Homo sapiens: one gene and its partner. The protein of the gene in region 1 interacts with the protein of each later gene in a pairwise test. Each region holds a gene or a part of one and is shown in the gene's direction. Other genes may lie near its edges.

The links. Proteins that work in one complex are often made in the same cells at the same time.
Region 2: the proteins of GSE1 (region 1) and CEP63 interact in a two-hybrid assay, tested with the Homo sapiens proteins (2 studies listed by BioGRID and IntAct).

What each region holds. Positions count from the first base shown.
Region 1 is NC_000016.10:85,672,322-85,674,510, forward strand, and holds part of GSE1 (genetic suppressor element 1), read left to right. Parts: intron 1-83; coding exon 84-218; 3' UTR 219-2,189.
Region 2 is NC_000003.12:134,545,057-134,548,765, forward strand, and holds part of CEP63 (centrosomal protein of 63 kDa), read left to right. Parts: intron 1-529; coding exon 530-763; intron 764-1,092; coding exon 1,093-1,232; intron 1,233-2,278; coding exon 2,279-2,416; intron 2,417-3,709. UniProt on the Homo sapiens protein: Required for normal spindle assembly.

The sequences.
Region 1 (2,189 bases):
TTCCATCCAGCATGTTTGTACTCTACATGCTTGTCCTTACAGAGGAAACGGGTTGGTTTTGACACAAATTTCCCTCTCTCCAGGAGTTGAGGAGCCAGAAACAGAAGATGGTCTCAGAAAGGGAGCGGCTCCAGGCAGAACTGGACCACTTACGAAAGTGCCTTGCCTTGCCTGCAATGCACTGGCCTAGGGGCTACCTGAAGGGATATCCCAGGTGACGGTTTCCCTTGCACTAGGCCGAACCTATAGTATAGAAATATTATCTATTTTATTACCTTGAATATTTAATATTTTTCACTGGGAGGTTTGAAGCTTACAAAATGAGAATGTGCCATGCATGAAGCAAAGGATTCCAGGCTCCAGAAAAAATGAATGAACTCACCTTGACGTCAATGCAATTGAATCACCGTTGTCATTCAGCGAGCAACCAATGTAGGATTGCCCACAGTTTTTCTTTTTAAAGGTGGTTTTCGCCCTTCCTCTCCCACATTATTTCTTAATCTGAACATGAAGGCTCCATTAGCAACACTAAAACTTGATCATTAACAGCCCCCTGTGCATATGAGTGGATCAAACCGGTTCTGTTCTTTCTTGTGTTGCCATGTTACTATGCCTCAAGCCCAGTTTGCTTTTGCCGCAGCGATGGGGCCAGTCTCATTCCTCCCCAGGAGTGAAACTTGCTTCAGCTGAAAAGGTTGGGTGCATTGTCAGTAAAAAGGGCTTATTTGTTTCATTTTACTTTCCTGCAAAATTTTCTTCAAAGCAACAAGTCCTAGGAGCACACAAAGCAACCCAAAGGCTTTTCCCTGGAAAAGCTCTTTCTTACCTAAAGATAAAACCAATTCACAAACTGAAGGTAGCTTTTTATTACTCCGTGGGGAGCATGTACAGAGCTCTGTGTATACACAGCTTCACACCCACCAGATTGTTACTACAGTGGGTTGGGTTTTCATACAGACGTAAATTTTGAGAGAAAAGTCAAAGGTGCTTCAGCCTTGTACTGTGTATATATATTAAAAAAAAAACAAAGTTTTGTATGTTTTTATTACTTTAACTATTGTTATAAAAAGCCTGCCATTTTTAATATGTGGTTTGGGGGATTTTTGTTTGTTTTTCCTGTTTGGGGGTTTTGTTTGTTGTTTTGGTTTTTTTTGGGCAAAAAAAAAAAAAAAACCTTGCTTTTAGTGTTTGTACTGCTGCTGGTCAGGACATTAAAATATTGAAGTGTTTTTAAAAATTAAAGAAGAAGAAAAGTAAAAGAGCTTACCACTGGCGCCTATGCGATCACTTCATTTTTAGTTTGAGTTGCACCAGAAGCTGCCGTAGAAAGCCATGCGCTACTGCTTACCTCCTCCACTCCCCCTGCCTGCCCCCAGCATCTGGACAAGCTAATAGCAAATATTACCCATTGCTATCAAGGGAGGAGGGGGTAGTCTGTAGAACCCATGTGTGACAGTCATGTGCACACATGGGCGGGGGCTTTTAAAAACCTTTCAGGAAGTCAATGATTTCTGTGATTGATATAATTCTAAGGTGTCTGAGAGCAGGTACAGAATAGGAACTTCAGAGGCTTTGTTTAAACGCAAAGCTTTGTAAAAGCCACAAGGTCTGAGCTGAACCCCTCCTTTTTGAACTTACTGTGACAAGCACAGGAACGGTCAGAAACTGGGCTCATCACACCAAGGCAAAGCAACGGGCGAGTCTTCCTCCTTGTCCTAGTTACTGCCTATGGAGGCAGTGTTTAGATCAAGAAGGCCTCTCTTGCTCCCAAGGGCCCTCACCAGAGGCCAGGGCTGCCAGTCACTGGTCTGGGGGGTGGAGGCCTGAGCTGAGGGCAGGGTGCCTGACCTGTGTGCCGGCTGCTCACTGCTGTGACCAGCAGCCGAGCCCTTGGCCCTAGCCCTTGCTGCGCAGAACAGCTTGCTGGCAGCTGGCATCGTGTCGCTTTATCTGCCCCCGCACAGTTTGCTTTGTACGTCTGCCAAGAATCTTCCAGTTATTAGCAAACTCAGACGAATGTACCGCCAGTATTATCAGCAGTCAACAAGCACCTTCCTCTCCACAGAAGCAGCTGGAAGAGAACTCGAGGGGCTGTGCTGCAGGCCTCCCCTCGAAAGACACTGGGAGGTCAGCATGTTCCACAGGTGTTCAGAGGGAGTCTGCTACAAACTATCAGGGCAAAATCTCAC
Region 2 (3,709 bases), on another chromosome or scaffold:
AATCTCGGCTCACTGCAACCTCCAACTCCCTGGTTCAAGTGATTCTCCTGCCTCAGCCTCCCGATCCCGAGTAGCTGGGATTACAGGCACGCGCCACCACGCCCAGCTAATTTTTGTATTTTTAGTAGAGACGGGTTTCACCATGTTGGCAAGGATGGTCTCAATCTCCTGACCTCATGATCCGCCCACCTCAGCCTCTCAAAGTGCGGGATTACAGGCGTGATCCACTGCACCCGGCCAATTTTTGTATTTTTTATAAAGACAGGGTTTCGCCATGTTTCCAGGCTGATCTCGAACTCCTGAGCTCAAGCGATCTGCCTGCCTCAGCCTCCCATAGTGTTAGGATTACAGGCGTGAGCCACCACTCCCAGCCTCTCAATTCTTTCTTACCCCTTCGCAATATATATATATATATTTTAGTGAGCCAATGCTTTATGTTTTTATGGAAATAATAGTTTCATTTTAGTCTTATTCATTGATTATTTTATCATTTCCCTTTTACCTATTGATTGATAGTCTGTGTTTCTAGGCTCAGCTTGTCAATCGGAAACAGAAATTAGAGTCTGTGGAACTTTCTAGCCAATCAGAAATTCAACACTTAAGCAGTAAACTGGAGCGGGCTAATGACACTATCTGTGCCAATGAGTTGGAAATAGAGCGCCTCACCATGAGGGTCAATGACTTGGTTGGAACCAGTATGACTGTCCTACAGGAGCAGCAGCAAAAAGAAGAAAAATTGAGGGAATCTGAAAAACTATTAGAGGTATGTTTTAAAATCACTATAATTGGGGGAAGTGTGTGTATGAGTATTTTAAGAGAGTGTTATTAAGCTAGAACTAGGTTCTACAATCCATACTTTCTTCCCTACTTTATAAATGATGGATCAGATATTGATAGTTTTACTAATATTGTGACTTTATTACAATATTTACAATATTGTAATATTGTTACGTAACTTATAGTCTGACTTCCTGGCTTCTCGTGAAATAGAAAAATTGTAATAATAGCTGGCTTAGAAATTTCTGAGTATTTTGCAGGTTCTGCAGGAATTAAAAAGAAGGAAAATTATAATCATATTTGACTTTTTTGCAGGCTCTGCAGGAAGAAAAGAGAGAATTGAAGGCAGCTCTTCAGTCTCAAGAAAATCTCATACATGAGGCCAGAATACAAAAGGAGAAGTTACAAGAAAAAGTAAAGGCAACTAACACTCAACATGCTGTAGAAGCTATAAGGTAAATTTAATCTTAAATATTATTCATCTTAGCCACTTAATGACTAGGTATTAAGCACTAGGCTTATTTTTATTTTTATTTTTATTTTATTTTCAGATAGTCTCCTGTTGCCCAGACTGGAGTGCAGTGGTGCAATCTCAGCTCACTGCAACCTCAACCTCCGAGGTTCAAGCCATTCTCCAGGCTCAGCCTCCCAAGTAGCTGGGACTACAGGTGCATGCTACCACACCTGGCTAGTTTTTTGTATTTTTAGAGACGGGCATTCATCATGTTGGCTAGGCCGGTCTTAAATTCCTAACCTCAGGTGATCTGCCCACCTCAGCCTCCCAAAGTGCTGGGATTACAGGTGTGAGCTGCCACGCCCATCCAAGCACTAGTTTTCATATTGCATATTCATAATTTTATGTTTGATCATATTGTGGATTTTCTTAATTGGCTTTAACTTCTGAGTTAGGTTTTTAAAGTGTTATAAAATTTTGTGTGGTTAATTTTCTTCTGCCACCAGTTAGGGTCCCTAACAGAGACTCTCATGTTTAGAAAGTTAGAAACCAAGGTCAGTTTGCATGCTTGGTGAAAATCCAAATGTGCAGGGAATTGTCATCCATGTCTCCTGGAGGCCTCACTTTGTTGGTGGAATAAGTTGTGATTAGTAGCTGCTTATCATTAATAGCAGCCAGCCATTGGGCTAGCCCTCTTGCTTGATTTAAGTCTGATGCACACTTTTATTTTTGCCAGAATTCTCCTGTAACTTTTCAGTTTTTTTGGTACAGGGTTTCAAGTGTCACTGAAGTGATTTTGCCATTTTGTCTTTTTCCCTTGAAAAAAGGCCAAATCCCAGTTAAGAAGGGAGTAAATTGCTACTTTTTGAAGTATCAGCATCTCTTGACTCTTTCTTTCCTCTCCCAATATTCTTTTTATAAAGCAGGAGACAAACTTGAAGAGTTCCAAAGAGGTTACCAAAAATGATGGGGAAACACAGACTAGATGAGCATTATTTTTGTTTGCAGAGATAAAGGCGTTAACAATCATCCTATGTCTTTCCATAGGCCACGGGAAGAATCTCTGGCAGAAAAGAAGTACACCTCTCAAGGGCAGGGGGACTTAGACAGTGTGCTCTCCCAGTTGAATTTTACCCATACTAGTGAGGACCTTCTGCAGGCAGAGGTGACTTGTCTTGAAGGCAGGTACATAATTATACACACATTTCAAAAATTTCAAGTTGTTAAAATGAATTTTTGATCATCATATTGTAAATGAATGTAATAGTCATAGTAAAAAAAATAAGATTTTTTTCTAGTATCCACAAATGGCCTAAGTTCTTATTTCTTTTTTTTTTTTTTTGAGACGGAGTCCGCTCTGTCACCCAGACTGGAGTGCAATGGCACAATCTCAGCTCACTGCAACCTCCGCCTCCCGGTTCAATTGATTCTTCTGCCCCAGCCTCCTGAGTAGCTGAGATTACAGGCGTGCACCACCATGCCTGGCTAATTTTTATATTTTTGTAGAGACGGTGTTTCACCATGTTGGCCAGGCTGGTCTTGAACTCCTGACCTCAGGTGATCCACCTGCCTTGGCCTCCCAAAGTGCTGGGATTACAGGCATGAGTCACCGCACCCTGCCCTAAGTTCTTATTTCATTGAGAAGACAGAAGCAATTAAAGGAGAACCTCTTAATCTTTCTGTCATCAAATCTACCAGTCTGCCCATACCTGTGCCTTTCTGCACTTCTAAGACCAACCACTCCACTTGTGTCCTTTTTCTGTAGTTATATCCTTTCTCTTCTGCATCATCAAGTTCTTTCTGTCTGCTGAATCTATCCACTGGTATAAAATACGCTGTAACATCACCCATCTGGGGGAAAAACCATCCCTTAATCCTATGTCTCCGTCAAGTTATTTCCACATTTCTGTACTTCTCTTTAAGACCAAATTCTTCAAAAGAGTTGTCTATACTGACTCTACTTCTTTACCTTTCACCTGTTTAGCAGCCCTTCACTTAGGTTTTCCTCCTTGCCACCTCAGAAGCAGGGTAGGAAGGGGTAACAGTTGACACATGGTGATCCTTTTTGTTCTGCTGTGGTGTTGTTACTTCCTTGGGTGTTAATTGAATCCTGACTAATGCTATACCATACCCACCTAAACACTTGTCATTGTCGTACTTATAGAATTTTTTTTGGTTTTTCATAACCTCTCAACTTTTTGATTGGGAAGAGTGTGATATCTTGTTTTAAACACATGAATCATGATCATTTGTACACTGACATTTTCTGTATGTAAAAGATAAAATTGCTTTTAACATGAACTGTTAACCTTTAGGCAAACAACAAGAGAAATATCATTTTACACTTTTTAGGTTATCTTTAAGTAATACATTTTTTGTTTTTACATTTATTTCTGGTTTTGGAAACCAGTAAGTATTTTCTTACTTTTATCTACATGTTAAATACACAAACATGCATACACACACATATTTTCTGCT